4 separate regions of the Homo sapiens genome follow, and regions 1, 2 and 3 are each linked to region 4. Evidence: fine-mapped expression QTL. A gene starts in region 4. Each other region holds a variant in brackets. All regions are shown on one strand. Distances are from middle to middle. Region 1 overlaps NEURL1 (neuralized E3 ubiquitin protein ligase 1). Region 2 overlaps COL17A1 (collagen type XVII alpha 1 chain). Region 3 overlaps CFAP43 (cilia and flagella associated protein 43). Region 4 holds the start of GSTO1 (glutathione S-transferase omega 1).

Region 1 (4,163 bases), 670 kb after region 4:
GCTGAGCAAGGGGTCAGACAGGCGGCTGCCCAGGGCACTGGGCGAGGTTGGCGTGGAGGCAGGGGAGCAGGGGAGTGATGGGATACCCCGCTCGGCCAGGATAGTGGAGCCTGTGAAAGGGGAGGGAGGGAAGGACACACTAGCTGCCTGCCCAGGCCAAACTGGAGAAAGCTCTGTCCCTCACAGTGGGTTCCCAGGCCTGACCACACAGCCCAGCCACAGGGCCAAGAGCGGGATTTTGCAGGCTGGCGCGGGGATCATTTGATATTACCGCCGTGGAGTATAGCTAATCAGCTAAAGACTTTGACCCCAGACAGCACCCAGCCTGGCCTCTGTTCTCACCTATGAACTGGAGGGTCATATCCTGCTTTCTTCTTGTTAAAACAGCAGCTCCAAACTAGGCCCCTGCCTGGCACCTACCTCCGCCCCTCCCCATGTATGCTTTCTGCAAAGCTTCCTGGGCCGGAGCATGTATATTACCATCTCCCCTGCCCCGCAACCTCACCCTCCTGTTCGGAGCCCTGAGCTCTTCACCACTGTCCCCAGATATCACCCACCTTTTCTGCATGGCACCTCTGCAGTGCCTTCACTTTTTCCCACCTTGTTCTGATCATAGATTCTCTCCTCCCCTCCTTCCTCCTTCCGTCACTCACTTCCTCTCCTTTTTTTTTTTTTTTTTTTCAGACGGAGTCTCGCTGTCGCCAGGCTGGAGTGCAGTGGCACGACCTCGGCTCACTACAATCTCCACATCCCAGGTTCAAGAGATTCTCCTGCCTCAGCCTCCTGAGTAGTTGGGATCATAGGCACATGCCACCACACCCAGCTAATTTTTTAATATTTTTAATAGAGACGGGGTTTCACCATGTTGGCCAAGATGGTCTCCATCTCCTCACCTCGTGATCTGCCAGCCTCGGCTCCCAAAGTGCTGGGATTGCTGGGGTGAGCCGCTGCGCCCGGCCTTCCTCTCCTTTTTAACAATCCTCGCCTCCCTCTTTCCCTCCTTCCTTCTCTCCTCCCTTCAACAAATCCTTACCAAGGACCTACCAGGCATCAGGCCCCGTGCAGACAGAAAGCTAGAGACAGCCCCTGACTTCAAAGAGCTGGCTGTCCAGGGAGCCTCTGACAGCTGTCCTCAAACTCCTTCCTCTGGGCCGCCCTGACTACCCCCAGACCACATTACTCCCTCAAGTACACACACACATGCACTACAGACATACAACTACACAACCACAAAGGCTGGGGTAATATTTGTTCTGTGCCCAGGACTCCAGTTTTGTTTCTCCAGTGAAACCATGAGCTTTCTTTTTTTTTTTTTTTTGAGACGGAGTCTTGCTCTGTCGCCCAGGCTGGAGTGCAGTGGCGCAATCTCAGCTCACTGCAAGCTCCACCTCCCGGGTTCACACCATTCTCCTACCTCAGCCTCCTGAGTAGCTGGGACTACAGGCGCCTGCCACCAGGCCCAGCTAATTTTTTTTGTATTTTTAGTAGAAACGGGGTTTCATCATGTTAACCAGGGTGGTCTCGATCTCCTGACCTTGTGATCCACCCGCCTCAGCCTCCCAAAGTGCTGAGATTACAGGTGTGAGCCGCCGCGCCCAGCCCATGAGCTTTCTTAGAACAGGAAATAGTATTCACCTGTGACTCTCCTACAAATCCTAACATAATGCCCTGCACACACCTAAGTGCCCAATGAGATCTTTTTTATCTGTAGTTATTCTAATTCATTTAGTTGTGTTATTATTTCTAAGAATATTCAATAGATGCCCACAGGGTTTCTCTTACTGTGTTAATATTTTTCCAAGTTAATTATCATCTCCTTCTTTCAGGAATTCACAACTCCTATTTACTTTTCTTGCCTTGTTGCATTGGCCAGAATTTTCAGAACAACATCTGTAAGCCATCTCTATTATATTCCTGACTTTCATGAGAATATTTCTGATGTTTCACCAATAAGTATGGAACTGGCTGTATGTTTTGTGATACACATGAGTGAAGGAAATAACCTTCTATTTTTAGTATACTTAGGCTAGCCACAAAGCCAAGCATTCCTCTATAAGGTTAATAATGACCCTTCATACATTGCCACTGGTTAGTTATTCTTTTGAAGTCAGTCAGGATCTTCAAACACCAATTTGCTGGTTGTGATGCCCAATTTTCCAAACAGATCAGGAGCACTTTGTTGAATGTATATTGAATTCTGGGTGGTTCTTCTTCAACACCCACCTTGGCCTATCCTCCTCTTGGGAGAGAGAAATCTGGATTTTTTTAAGCCTCCCCTTTGCTCCAGTCTAGTAAACCTCTTTGGGCAACAGAAGCCTTACTGGAAAGCTGCTTAGCTATTATTAGATGGTGCTGAGGGAAGAAAGTACCTTACTCTTATGTAATTTCCTTGCCCTGAGGAGTAGTATATCCTGGTCAATGAAATCAGCTTGACTATTTTTTATTTTTTATTTTTTTGCATCCCA[G/C]CCTAATTTCTTTTTATTCCATCTTGAATTCTCACCCAAGCCTGATTCATCTTGCCTGCTTGCTTGATTTTTCTCTTTCTCTTTCTTTCTCTCTCTCTCTTTCTTTTCTTGAGATGGAATCTCACTGTTGCCCAAGCTGGAATGCAGTGCCACTATCTCAGGTCACTGCAGCCTCTGCCTCCCAGGTTCAAGTGATTCTCCTGCCTCAACCTCCCGAGTAGCTGGGCTTACAGGCGTGCACCACCACACCCAGCTAAATTTTTTTGTATTTTAGTAGAAATGGGGATTTGCCACATTGGCCAGGCTGGTCTTGAACTGCTGGCCTCAAGCAATACATCTGCCTCGGCCTCTCTAAGTGCTGGGATTACAGATGTGAGCCACCGCACCCAGGCTTTTCATTTCCTTTTTATTTATGTTTCACTCCATCTTCATTTGGTCTCTTTGCAGAGGTGGAAGTCCCCAATGTTTTTTATATGATTTCTCATGCTCTCACAAGCCAACAGCATTACATGCATTAACATATGTGTATTCAGTTACTCACATGTGCCTATACACAGTACGCCAATCTCATAGAGTAACTACCTCATGCTCACTCATCTACACACATTATCTTATCTATCAAGCCTCCTGGGCTGAGGTCTAGGCTAGGGGCTGTGAGGCCCAGGGGTCTCCAAACTTGGGTAAGCATACTTACTAAAGAAAAACAATTCAGATGTCCAGAACCTGTCCAAGGTCTACCGAATTAAAATCTCTGGAGGGGGGGTCCAAGAATCTGCACTTTAATAGGTCCTCCAGGTAAATCTAACGAAACCAGCTCAGTCTCACAGAGCTGGTTCAAAGACCGGCACTTGGAAAGCATGAATACCTGCTCACTCTGGGGTACAAAGGTACCAGGAGACACTTTGTGAAAAGATTTCCGGTCAAATTAGTATGGAAAAACTCTACACCAAAACCACCATCACCGTCTCCTTAATCAAAGTGCATATTAAAGGCTCTGAGAAGTCTTCCAATAAAGAATCTTCCTCCCTTCTTTTCTTAACTCAATGCACATCCCCCCAGTCCTTTCAAACCCTGTGCCCCCGAGAAAAGGCAGGCCCAGAACTCTGCAGCCCCACTTCCCCCAAGGCTGCCTGCTCAGGGATTCCCCCGAGTCCCCCAACCAGACACCACCCTGCACCACCTGACTACTGACATTCCAACCTTTTTTTCTCATTTGGACTCACAAACTTCCTTAAAGGTGAGGACCTTTATTTCCATTTTGGAGAAATGGTAACCGAGACTCAAAAAGTTAACTGCTGGGGGAAACCTTTTTTTTTTTTTTTTTTTGAGACGGAGTCTCACTCTGTCGCCCAGGCTGGAGTGCAGTGGCACGATCTTGGCTCACTGCAAGCTCCGCCTCCTGGGCTCAGCCATTCTCCTGCCTCAGCCTCCCGAGTAGCTGGGACTACAGGCGCCCACCACCATGCCCCGCTAATTGTTTGTATTTTTAGTAGAGACGGGGTTTCACCGTGTTAGCCAGGATGGTCTTGATCTCCTGACCTCATGATTCGCCCGCCTCGGCCTCCCAAAATGCTGAGATTACAGGCGTGAGCCACCGCACCTGGCCTTTTCCTCTCATTTTTGAGTGGTCAGTGGGTTGTGTGCTTCTGGACTGTTTATGTATCTGTGAGACTATGGGTTGATCTGATTCTGGGCATC
Region 2 (4,163 bases), 190 kb after region 4:
AAGATTTTTGAGGCTAATATGACAAAGTACCAAGTTGATAAGTGCTATTCATTAGTAAAATGTGAATATTATAAAGCCAAGCAAAAAGTTCCAATGTGTGAGGCAGATGCCATTCTCCCCAGTAGTCAGAATGCCACAAATGTTCCCCCCAGTTGCACAGGGACTCAGGAAAGAACTCTGGACTTAACAGAAACGTCTGTGGATTCTTTCACAGGGACAGAATTGGATGATGTTAAGCGTTTGCTCAAGGGGAGTCGATCGGCAAGTGTGAGCCCCACCCGGAATTCCTCCAACACACTCCCCATCCCCAAGAAAGGCACTGTGGAGACCAAAATTGTGACAGCGAGCTCCCAGTCGGGTAAGTCTGACAGCCCAGGCTGCCGAGGAGTGTGAGAAACAAACTTACCCATCCAAACCCAAAGAGTGGACTCAGAGACCCAGAGAACAGTGAAAGTGAGACTTGAAATTGGGGCCCACCAAATCTCATTCCAGCTAGCACAGGGCTTTCCCTAATAGCAACCTGTTTTAGGGCATAGATATTTGTTTGCTTGTGACAGCTGCCTTTGGTTTCCTAAATTCCCACAATGTAAGACTCAGCAGGCATTGAATTTTATGGTTTAGGGGGTAGAGGTTTTAGTTATGTTGATTATTAGATTGATTGGATATTCCCTACTTTCCACCCCTAGTACTGGGCCCTATCCAATACTCAGGTCTTCTTTTGTGTGTTAGGATTAATCCTAACCATATCCACCCCTAATGAAGGGGTTTGCTTATAGCTCTCTTCTAGGTTTTCCTTAGAGTTAGCTTTAAGTGTTCCTTAGGTGATTTATACACTTCCCATTTGCCCTTTTCCCTTCCTTCTTGGGTTTCTTTTACCAGTCCCTTGAGTGTAATGAGTTCACCCTCGTTTAGCTGTTCGTTGTCACGTTTCAGTGGTTAGGACCACTTGATAGGGACCTTGGCAGCTTGGGTGGGGCTTATCTTCTTTTCAAGTCTTAATTAGCACCGAGATGCCAGGCTGGAAGTGGTGAACTGTGAACTCAAGAGGCGGGGTTTGAGTTCGAAGTCCTTTTAAGCTAAAGGATGACAGGGTGGAGGATATGGCCAGTATATGATTTCTTAAAAACTGGTTTTTGGTTTCCATAGTAGGAAGATCAGTAGTCCTATCTAAATATGGGAGTCCATATCATAACTTGTAAGGGGACAGTCCAAAGTCTTTGCTTGGGGCTGTTCTAATCCTAAGGAGTGCTACTGGGAGACATTCGAGGCATTTTAGTTGTAAAGATTAGTTTAGTAATATGCTTTTTGAGAATTTGACTTATTCTTTCTACTTTTCCAGAGGAAGGGGGATGCCAAGGGGTATAGTAATCCCATTTAATGTGTAAACTTTCCATAATTCCCCTTAGCACCCTTGAGGTAAAGTGATACCCATTGTCCGAATTAATATTTTTTATCAAGACAAATCTAGGTATAATTTGTTTTAAGATTATTTTTACCACATTCCTGGCGGTGGCAGTTGGGAGGTGGAATTCCTCCACCCAGCCGGAGAGGTGGTTTACCATTACCAGTAGATACTTTAGTCTCCCTATTTTGGGCATTTCTGTAAAATCTACTTGAATGCTTTGAAATGGCCTTAACCCAGGAGGTCTTCCTCTGGTAGTCTGTTTTCTAACTACTTTTTTGTTTATTCTCTGGCAGGTTACACAACACCCACACACTTGTTTAGCAAGGGTATAGATCCCTATACACCCATAATTTTTTAGTATTGCATCACACATATCCTGGGGACCCCAGTGAATTCCTTTATGCAGTATGGACATCAGTTTTCTCATTATGGGTTTGCTTATCATTTCTCTCCCATCAGGGAGCACCCACCTCCCATCCTCAGTTTGAGTGGCCCCTATCTTGCCCAGCTCTTCCTCCTCCTTTTTAGAAAATTTGGGTTTTAATATCACCTTAGGGATCTGTGGGATTAGGCTAAACAATCTAACTTCTTCCTCCAGGGAAGCTTGCTTAGCAGCTTTATCTGCAAGCCTGTTCCCCACAGCTTCTATAGTTTTGCCTATGGCTATCTCTGCTAGAAGCAAGAGGCTTTTTAAAACTTGTTTGATCAGTTCCCCATGTACAAATTCTTTCTCCCTGCTATTTATTAGGCCCCGCTCTGTCCAGATCTTTTTAAAGGTGTGTACTATTCCACAGGCATATTTGGAATTAGTATATACAGTGCCTTCTTGGCCTTCTAGAAGCTTGAGGGCCTGGTTAAGAGCATGTAATTTACAGGTTTGGGCTGACCAATTATTGGATAATCTACCTTTTTCACATAAGGATTATTTGTTTCCATTAATGACAGCATAGCCATTGTGTTTTTTACCATTTATTACTTGGGATGACCCATTTACAAACAGTCTCATCCCATTATGTAATGGGGTGGTTTAACTTTAGTTTGATATTAAGGTCTGGTTTAACTTTAGTTTGACATTCTATGATATCCA[G/AACAG]TTATGATTTGATGCCTCTTTATTCTCCTCTCCTTTTCATAAGAAGCTGGCTGGATTCAAGAAAATACATGTTGTCAAGACTAAATTATCTTTTTGTAATAATATGGCTTCATATTTTAAAATCTGGGAATTAGTTTACCATCTCCCAACTCTTTGATTTAATATATTCCTGACCTGATGTGGGGTGCTCACTACCAGGGCCCTGCCGAAGATCAACTTCAGACTCCCCTCCGCCAGCAGGGCCATGGCAGCCACTGCCCACCTGCACCTTTGTCTCCCCATCTCCCGTCTTACATGGCCTCTCTCTCTTTCCCTGTCTCTCTCTCTTCCTCTTGTACTCTTTTTTCCTTTTACATTATGTCTCTCCCCAGTTTCACCTTCTGTGTCTTTGATCTCTGTCTTTTCCCGTCTCTTTCTCTTTCGCTTATTTTCTTTTTTCTTTTTTTTTAATCTCTCTGTCTCTGTCATCCCTGTTTTCTCTTTCCCTTACACTCAGTTTCTTCTTCTTTCTCTGGGCGCCAGCGCACTCGCCATGTTAACAGCTTACTTACATTAGCTCTCTCACACTGTCCACCTTTATCTCGGCTGTTTGCTTCGGCTCTGCAGCTCCTGCCGCCCCCACACCTGCAGCTGCACAGCCGGCTCCCTTGCCTTCAGGGTCAGCAGCTTAACTCTTTCTCTCTCTGAGCACCAGCGTGAGCCATGCCGTGGCTCCCCTCTGTCCGTCTGCAAGATGGACAGCTTTGGCTTTCTCTCTTTCTCTTTTTCCAATTCGTTTCTTACTTTTCGCAAAAACCTTCTAATTCCTTAATTGGCTTTTTATTCCATCCATCAACTTTTTTGCAGTTTCTTAGTAATATCAGGCCAGCTTTTAGTCATAAAATTAACCTTTAAAAGGCCTTGCCCTACTAGGTCCTCTGGATGTAATCCTGATTTTTTTTTTTTTTTTTTTTTTTTATTCCTGAGCCTCTGCAGAAATGCAGAGGGAGTCTCCTCTTTTACTTGTTGAAGCTCGAATGCTTTTGAGACATTCTGTGTCCTTGAAGTGGACTCTTTAATCCCTTTAATTATTCGTTCCCTTAGGTCCTGCATTTGGGCCCGATCTTTGGGGTTATTGTTATTCCATCTGGGATTTGCATTTAGGAATTTCTGCTCAGCTGGCGGGACTCCTTGCCCGAGAGGATGCTGTCTTTCCCAAATGGTCATGGCTGCCCTTTTAATTATTCCCCTCTCTTCCTCAATAAACAGAATAGTCATGATTGACATCATCTTAGCCCAAGTACAAAAATTGGGTCCTAAAAATTGATCTAGCTGCTTTGCTACACCGAGGAGATTTTCCAAGAGCGGCCTTATTTCCTATTTAAAATTCCTAACCTTAGTACTTGTTAGAGGCACACTTACATATCCAACTTCTCCCTGTCCCATAGGGACTTCTCTAAGAGGGTACATATTAGACATCTGCTGTTTAGAAGGAATAGGGAAATTCTCAATGTCCTTCTTACATTGTTCTAATTCTCTCCTCAAGTTTGGATAAGGATTTACGGGAGCATTGGGTTTAGCTTCTTTATGATCCCCAGATTCCTCTTCCTCCAGCCTTCCTGTTACTCCCTGATCTCCCTGTCCTCTACTTTGTGAGATGTAAAGTGGAGGCAAGCGTGTTATGGGATTCCA
Region 3 (4,163 bases), 110 kb after region 4:
GCAGTCGTAAAGTTCTGTTTCTTGCGATAAGTGGTGCTAACAAGAGTGTTTGCCTTTATAATAACCCATTAAATTATATATTCATGTTATGTATTTTTTGTATATGTGATTTACCTTACAATGAAATTATGAAAAAGGTAAAATAACTGAAGTTATTTCAATAAGCTGTATTCCCTTTTTCTTTAAAATGTTTCTCTTACATTTTAAAGTTTATGTGTATGTCATAAACTTGCTTGATTAGTGCCAAGTCTATAGAAAATATTGTCTCAGGTGGAAGTAATTCCACCAACCTTTTTCTTAAATATTTCTACAGGAGGAACTGAAAATAAGTAACCTTGCATTTTCTTTATTGTTGGATGAAGAATTAAGCTCTAGAGAAAAATTCCTGAACAACTACCTTACAAGGAAACAGCACGAGAAAGTAAGAATAGTGTCTGAAATCTGAATACAAGCATTTTCTGATAGACATGCCCCTCATTTAGCAAGAGCTCACGTGTCTAGACCCTTCCTTCCTTCCTTGCACCATTCCTACATAACCATGTGCATCCCTTGGCTCCCTGTCTGGAACTTTGCTCCAGGGCCAGGTGAAAGTAACCATTCCAATCTGTTAATAAAGTTAGGTGATTCTGCATCTGCAATCATTTAGCCAAAAGAACTGTGTAGCTTTCATATGACATGGTTTATAAAATGAGGCCATATAGCTTCATGGTTGAAAGCACTGGCTGTGGGACCTAGGACAAGGCATATAACCTTTTAAGCTATTTGCAAGCTCTTACCTAGGGAATGTTTTTCTCTCTGGACACGCTAAGATTTACTAAGATGTAAGCAATGGGCTTGCGTATAGAATGAAAAACTGCCGTATTATGAAAAACTCTAAATATGAGCTTGGATAGATATGGTTCATTAAAAAGACAATGAATACAAAATGTTTATCACATAATGTTTCTACAAATGTCAGCTTTTGTTAGTAGTATTAGTAAAGAGCATTTATGAATGTGTGACTTAAAAATGACATGAACTTTTTTCTAAGAGCCTATTAAACAGCATATGCAAAGCTTCTTCTAAATACAACTTTACATATAGCAACCCTGCAGCATACTAGATTTCTTTCACAGATGAGGATACCATCTCAGAGAGTCTGGGTAGCATGCCTAAGTCAGCCACTAGTGTGTAATAGAGCAGCAGCTGGAACTGTGGGAATAAGTGAAGAACATCCAAATGCAAATGAGCAGATGCTGTTTATTCAGAGCTTGGCACAGCAAGGGACTCATCCACCATCAGTTACTTTTGGCAGACTCAAAGGCAGGAAAGGAGTAGGAAAGCTTTATAGTGCAAAGAAGAGAGGGCTTCAGATGCAACATCATTGGAAGTTGTTGGCATGAGGAAGCTAGAGGCAAACCAATTAGAAGCGGGACAACTCATTTTACTGGTTTAGGGAACATATTTGGCTTTCTCTGGATGGTCCTAGGTTGGAAATGGGGACAAAATTATAGAAGCTGGTGGTAATGATCAAGCCCTGAAAGTTTGAGGCCAATCCTTAAAAAGGCTGTGGTTTAGTTTCCCAGCTGATGATTGTAGAGGTTGTGGGTCAGAATTCTGTTGTTACATATGGTCTGGCCCTTGTTTGCATGTATATCCAGTCTCTCAGAACCCAGGTCCATGTGATTCCGAAGCCTGTGCACTTTCATCCTCCACACTGACTTACCAAGAATGCAGTGTGCTCCATAGACACTCACACACTCATACACAGAGTTGGCTGTACTTAGAAACAGGTGATTGGGTGTTCTTTCAAAGTCCCCAATTGGTGTATTTTCTTCTATAAATCTTA[T/A]CTTCATGAATAAATACTTCACAGACATATTTCTCTTGTACTAGGAAATTCCTTGCTCTTTTTAGTATCCCCAATATTTTTGTTTATGCTGGAAAGTCTCCAGTTTCAATCAACTATTCCTGATGCTGTTATAGAGCCAGACTTCAGAAGCTGTTCGGAAATCTAGAGAAGACCTGGATGTGTGCAAGGAGCACTATGACAACTTACTGGCAGAAGACAAAGTGAGAGTTGTTGTCTTACCCACTCAACAATGCAGTAGAGTTGTTGCTGCCTGGATTGGAGGAAGGTTAAAGGGGATATAATATAATTTTCTCACAGATTTTTCTCCCACTTAATTCTCAGCTATGGGTGAACTTCATTCTATGCCATTGTATATTTTTGAAAATCCATGTGTAAAATGAATTTTTATAAGCTTCTCTGGTTTAAGCTTTCTGTTATACAAAATACAGGGAAATCATCTAGCCTTTAAGGCTTTTCAAACTTTAGGTTGCAGACCCCATTACTTGGCCATGAAATCAATTTAGTAGGTTATGACCAGCAGTTTTATAATGGAAAAGAATAGGATAGAATAGCATAAAGAAGACAGATGGAACAGAATGGAATAGAAAAGAAAAGAATAGAGTAACATTCATGTTTTTTGGGTAAATATATTTTGGGACACTTCTTTGGGAAACTTCTGGATGATTTCTAAGACCTGTTATATGAAATAATATTTTTAATACACTTAGATGCTTCTTATCAAAACAAATCTTTGAGACATCATTGCACAGAGAATGGTTAATGTCTAACAACTTTGTAAATCAAGGTTTCATGCATTTTTAAAACCAAAGTGCTACCACCTGTATTTTGAAGAGTATTGTCAACAAATAAAAGGTTTCCAAACCAAGTTGCAGTCCTCAAATGTCATGTTTGTCCTTAGGTTATGGATCGCAGCTTTAAAAAGGAATTTTCTGAAATTCCTGGTCATCAAGTGGATATACTCTACAAACTTTTTAAACGCCGACCAAGGTTTGTTTCTCCTTCACTATTGTGTTTCTGAGAAAAAAGTTTGCAAATAAAGAGGAGTGTTACTAGATTTCAGCTTTTTTCTCCCAATTAAATGGAATTATTCAGTGTAATATCTTTTAGGTGGAGATGTTTAAGGGTTTTGATCCTAATTCAGTATTTTTTGAGATTATGTCTATATCTTAAGGTAGAGAATAATGATTTATTTTCATTATTTAAAAATAGTTAAGGATCTGTGTAAGCACGGTACTATTGTAGATTCTGCTTTGTACATTAAGGAAGTTCCTCTTACATCATAGATGGCACACAGATTTAAAAACAGTTTTTTCTAAAGTGCGTTCAAACAAACACAAGTTCCCTGATGTATAAATCGGAACTACTTGTAATAGGCTTCCAGGACTAACTAAGTTTGGGGAAAATACTGGGTTAAAAAAAGGAAGTTAAGCAGCTTTTCTTTTACTGCAGAATGTATTATTGGCCTTTGGATCTCCAAGTGTAAGAAACAGAGTAAGCAGCGTTTTCCAAACTTATTTGACCACAAATTGCTTTTCCTCAGAGTATCTCATGTGCTTGTGCCTAAAGTTTGAAAGATGCCAGTATAAATGGTAGAAAATAACCATTTGAAAAGAGTTCTAAGAAAGTATCACTGATTTCCACCATTATAAATGCAGATTTCCAGTTTTCAATCAAATGTAATCTAGAAATCAAGGAGTTTGTCACAAAGATGTAGTCAGCTAGTTTGTGTTTGAGATACAAACTCTGACAGGTTATAGGCAACCTAGGGAATTTAACCTAGAACATGCCTCTTGTTTTGGTTTTCCTTTTTTTTTGAGACGGAGTCTCTGTCTGTCACCCAGGCTGGAGTGCAGTGGCACGATCTCTGCTCACTGCAACCTCCGCCTCCCGGGTTCAAGCGTTTCTCCTGCCTCAGCCTGCCAAGTAGCTGGGACTACAGGCACATGCCACCACGCCCAGCTAATTTTTGTATTTTTAGTAGAGACGGAGTTTCACCATGTTGAGCAGGATGATCTCGATCTCCTGACCTCGTGATCCACCCATCTCAACCTCCCAAAGTGTTGGGATTATAGGTGTGAGCCATCTCGCCCGGCGGTTTTCCTATTTTTAAAAGAGTGAGTGATAATTAGCCCAATTACATACCTTCTCCTTGTGGAAAAAGAAGTGAGACCTCCCGCAGCAGTGGGAAAAGCACAAGCTTTCTTGTCAAACAGAATCAACTTTAAATCCTAACTTCAACACCTGTCAGACTGATAGCCTTGGGCCATGAGCTTCTCTCCCAGGCTGACTTTCCTCATCTAGAGAATGGGGATGA
Region 4 (4,163 bases):
AAAACAGGTGAAGTCCAGGCTATAGTCAGATTGTATTTAGGTCTATCTTGTATGTTGCCTGAGACTGTAGAGGAACTAAGAGAAAGGAGCTAGGTCCATATGATTGTCAAGGCTGAATAAATGTTCAATAGAACAGATTACTAAAAAAAAAATAGACACCAATACCTTTTGTTTTCTATTTTCCCATCCACAGCTGTAGCTAGAACAGCATTTCATTTGAGGATTTAAATACATAATCCCCCATGTAAACAAAGGAACATCCAATTTGAACATGAGCACAGGTGTGCATGTAATTTAAAAGGTTCATGTGCTGACAATACTGGACACTTAAGTACCAGCCATTGCAAAAAAAAAAAAAATTATTTGGCTCCTTGCCAAAGAATTATCAACATTTTTGAACTATAAAACAAAAACTTTTGTTACTATGAAAACAAAAAGATCCTGGGCTTTTGTTATTTAAAAAAAAAAAAGTATGTCAGAACACACATGAATTTTGGTAAGCTGGCATTGTGAGCCAACAAGTCTACACACCTGCCACAGCAAGTTGGAAGATGCATCTTTTAGAGAAAACCATGCTTTGTTAAGTCATATCATGTGGTTAAAATCTAGTACTTTCCCAGTAAAAGCCTCCTCGGGCTCAAGCTTAAAACTGGTCTATTAATGTAGTAGACCTTTGTTGTTTGCACTGTCTGGAAGCTGTTAACCACTCTCTTCCTCCCCTCTACCCCACACTATTAGGGGAAGATAGTTTCAATGTTCCTTTGGAAAACTGCCCCAGTAAATAAGGTAGGGTTGTTTTCAAACTAAAGGTCCAGGGTGAAGCACATAACCCAGGACTTTGTGCCTCTGAATCCAGCTGTGTCATGCTCCTGGACTTTTCAAATAAATGAGTACCAAAAAATGTCTTTTTTCAATTTTGGTTACATTAGATTTCTCTTAGTACAATAAAAGAGTTCTATCACAGCAAATATGACAGTGTTTTTGAGAAACATTATGAAATAGTAAGTACTCTATGTGTTCAGAATCATAATCTCATCCAAATGAGATGCATTTCTTAGTGAAGTAATGACAAATCCCCTTCAAATGTATTTTTTAAATGCATTTTACCTTTCTTTTAGGGAAAATAATTGCCTACCCCTAAAGATTATCCCCTTAGAAGACTAAAATTAGTTCACAAACACTAAGCACACAGACAGAAAATTCCTTAAGAATAGGGGGTTTGTTTTAAACTTCCACAGAACCTTCCACACCAAAGGTATCTAATAAATGTCTAATCAACAGACATCCAAAGGTCATGGGAAGGGAAGTGGTTCCAATGGATACTTGGTGTCAGAGAAAAGTCAAGTGACTGTTGCACATATCCTGTGGATAGCCCGTAAGTCAAAAACTATGCTAGTTTCAAAACAGGCTCTGCAGAAGGATGAGCTAGACAGACACTTCCCTCTATTTGACTCAACCAACAGCCCAATCCACAGGAATATGTGCAGTAAACTCAGCACTACCCTAGGAGGGTCAGGGTCTAAACTCTGCTGTACTGGGGTAAATTACTATTCTAGGAGGGAACAATACATTCAGAATAACAACTAACAGTTAAGCTGGAATAAGAACGGGAAATCACAATAGGGCGAAAGCGAAAGGACTCTGGACCAGGAATTCGTGACCTACCAAAGCTAAAAGAGCTGCTGCCGGTTATTACCGGGCAAATCACTAACATCACTGGAGCCTCAGCTTTTCTAATCCATTAAATGGTTGGTTAATCTAAATGAGGTGTCCTAGACCGTTGGAATCTGTGGCCTATTTTTCCTAGGGGAATGGCCTATAACTTGCTATTTTCCAAAGGGCCGAGAATAGTTTAATGTGCAGTAAAGGACGCTGGTGGGAGGGGGGTAGAAGGGGGCTGAGACCCCACCCCACCCCGCCGCCTGCAGCAGGCTCCCGGACGGCTCGGGGAGCGTCCCCCGCCTGGGTGCCCACCTGATTCCCTTGGCCTTCAGGACTAGACGCGTCCTCTCAGCAAACGGGCAGAACCTCATGCTGTAGATGCGGATCGAGCCCTCCGGGACCGGCCCCGGGGGCGCGCTTCCTGCCGGGGAGAAGCGAAGGCGATTACGGCCCAGAGAGGTGTCGAGACCCCCCGTATCCCACCGCCCCCGCGTCCCACTGCAGCTCCGACCCGTTCCCCGCCGGTGGGGCGCTCCCGGGCGGCTGGGCTCCCGGAGCAGCCTCGAACATGCCGCCGGGGGTCGCCGAGATCACCCCCTCTTCGCGGCGGGCAGGCCTCACCCTTCCCCAAGCTCCTGGCTGACTCCCCGGACATCGTGGCGCAGCGCAGGCCGAGCTCCTCTGGGGTTTGCAGGGGATTCAGGAAGTAGGTGGCGCGTCCTTCCCGCCCTCCTTCCCTCCCCCGCTTCCTCCTTAGCTCAAAAGTGCCTGCCCCCGGCGGCCGCCAGCTCCACCCGTTGTGCCTTCCCGGCTTTATGGGATAGCCCTTAAAACATCTTAAGGGGCTGTGTCAAAGCATCTCGCTGGCCAAGGGCTGCACCCACGGGGAGATACACAAAAGTTATAAATGCTCAGTCATCCCTCCGCCCCCGAACGAAGGGGTCACCACTCCGCACTCCACGGGGCTCCACGTCTGACCCTGACCCTGACCTCCCTCCCGTGACACTGACCTCGAAGCACCACCCGCTCCGTCCCAAGGCTTCACGACTTCAGAGCCTGTGGCCCGACCTCATGGCTCACTCACCGGTCCAGAGCGTTCTCTCCAAAGGCTCCTGTTCAGCTTGTGAAGGGAAAATAAAAATCTCTTGACTCCAAACTCACTATGCCAAAGGGAAGAGTCAAGCTTGGAAACTGAGTCAGGCAACACTGCCTCCCATTTTGTTGCTAAATAGCTACAAAGATCAAAGGCCACACACCTCCCCAAGGAAATTCCTTGTTGGCCCGCAAGATCTTTACTCTAAAACAGATCAGTTGAATTTCATCTTGGCAATGTAAACTAACAGCTTATCTTCCCAAGTATGGGACAAAGACAGGTCTAGGAGTCATCCTTCCTCTCGCTGGAGAAAAATGCAATTTGACCGCTTCCTCTACCCTATATTTAATCTTGTAAAAATGCAGATTCACCAAGCACTAGACGAATGCATAACTGACTATTCCTCTACGACCTCCTTTCACGAATGTAACATGCGCATTCAGTGAATGCTGATCAAAGGCCCCAAAGAATGCAACTACTCTCCCCTTTTATCTACCTTCCCTTTTTACTTTCCACTTTCCCCTACTGCCTGCTCTTTCCCTTTAAATATTGAAGTCCTCAAGCCCTCTTTGGAAAGAGCACAGATCACAGATGTTCCTGTGATTTTGTGTTCCTTTTTCTCAGATGTGTCCTCAACCTTGGCAAAATAAACCTCTAAAAGGATTGAGACTCACCTTGGTCATTTCCTTTGATTTACAAGCTCATCTATGCCTCGCTGCAGGGTTGCCCAGCCACCTGGACAGGCTTTTCCTTTTTCTGTCAGTACTAGCTTAACGTGACTACTGGGAGGGCCTCTGTCCCTACCGTCACCTGTAGGATACATCCTTTTCATTTTAACCCATAGGAGACAGCACAAACCTGGATATTATCAACCTCAGAATAATGGTGCTGCTTTCAAAACTCTCCCACTTATTAAACATTTGTGTTTTGGAGCCCTGGTAATATAACAGTACTCCCATTTTTCTAAGAGATAGAGGATGAGTTATTTTTTACATTATTTATTTCTCCCATCTTCTCTGTTTCCTCCTTTCTCCCTGTTCCCCACTTCCTACTTAGCTCTTTAGAAATGCAATTATCATCTTTTACCTTCCCTTCACCTGACACTCCCTACAGGGCAAGCTTATCTAACTGGGTGTTTACTTAAAAGCTCCAGAGCAGGACTCTCACCCCCCAGGAGACTGCCTCCAGAGATAACAGTCCATTTACATCCAAAAGTATGCCTGAGACAAGGCCACTTTACAAATGACTTCTGCCCATGATGGCACAACCCAGCAGATAAAGCACCAAAGTGAGTCATGCGAACCCCCACCCACTCGCTCCCTCCCCAGCATGCAGTTCATACCAACTGCCCCCTTTAAAAGCCCCTGCTTTCTGCCCCAGAAGCAAAGTGGTACCCTTAAGGCAGGAA

Evidence for each region. PIP is the estimated chance that this variant, and not a neighbour inherited with it, causes the effect.
Region 1: its variant is the best candidate, but not a certain one, in a credible set for the expression of GSTO1 in tibial artery (GTEx, PIP 0.75).
Region 2: its variant is the best candidate, but not a certain one, in a credible set for the expression of GSTO1 in tibial nerve (GTEx, PIP 0.57).
Region 3: its variant is the best candidate, but not a certain one, in a credible set for the expression of GSTO1 in tibial artery (GTEx, PIP 0.55).

What each region holds. Positions count from the first base shown.
Region 1 is chr10:103,585,461-103,589,623 of GRCh38, reverse strand. NEURL1 (neuralized E3 ubiquitin protein ligase 1) reads right to left here. Exons shown (of 6, transcript NM_004210.5): 5 at 1-110. Among named protein-coding and RNA genes, the nearest start is that of NEURL1-AS1, 70 kb to the right of the region's middle. The variant G/C (reference allele first, on the strand shown) is at 2,466.
Region 2 is chr10:104,066,621-104,070,783 of GRCh38, reverse strand. COL17A1 (collagen type XVII alpha 1 chain) reads left to right here. Exons shown (of 56, transcript NM_000494.4): 9 at 215-358. Among named protein-coding and RNA genes, the nearest start is that of COL17A1, 17 kb to the left of the region's middle. RefSeq lists enhancers at 2,536-3,190, 3,191-3,846. The variant G/AACAG (reference allele first, on the strand shown) is at 2,493.
Region 3 is chr10:104,144,149-104,148,311 of GRCh38, reverse strand. CFAP43 (cilia and flagella associated protein 43) reads left to right here. Exons shown (of 38, transcript NM_025145.7): 29 at 314-421; 30 at 1,963-2,049; 31 at 2,748-2,836. Among named protein-coding and RNA genes, the nearest start is that of SFR1, 24 kb to the right of the region's middle. RefSeq lists an enhancer at 990-1,521. The variant T/A (reference allele first, on the strand shown) is at 1,829.
Region 4 is chr10:104,253,083-104,257,245 of GRCh38, reverse strand. GSTO1 (glutathione S-transferase omega 1) reads right to left here and starts at 2,354. Exons shown (of 6, transcript NM_004832.3): 1 at 2,284-2,354; 2 at 1,975-2,083. The coding sequence starts at 2,317. All of the region lies in intron 1 of LOC124902497 (a long non-coding RNA gene), which reads left to right. RefSeq lists silencers at 1,408-1,457, 1,948-2,207 and enhancers at 2,278-2,337, 2,672-3,186.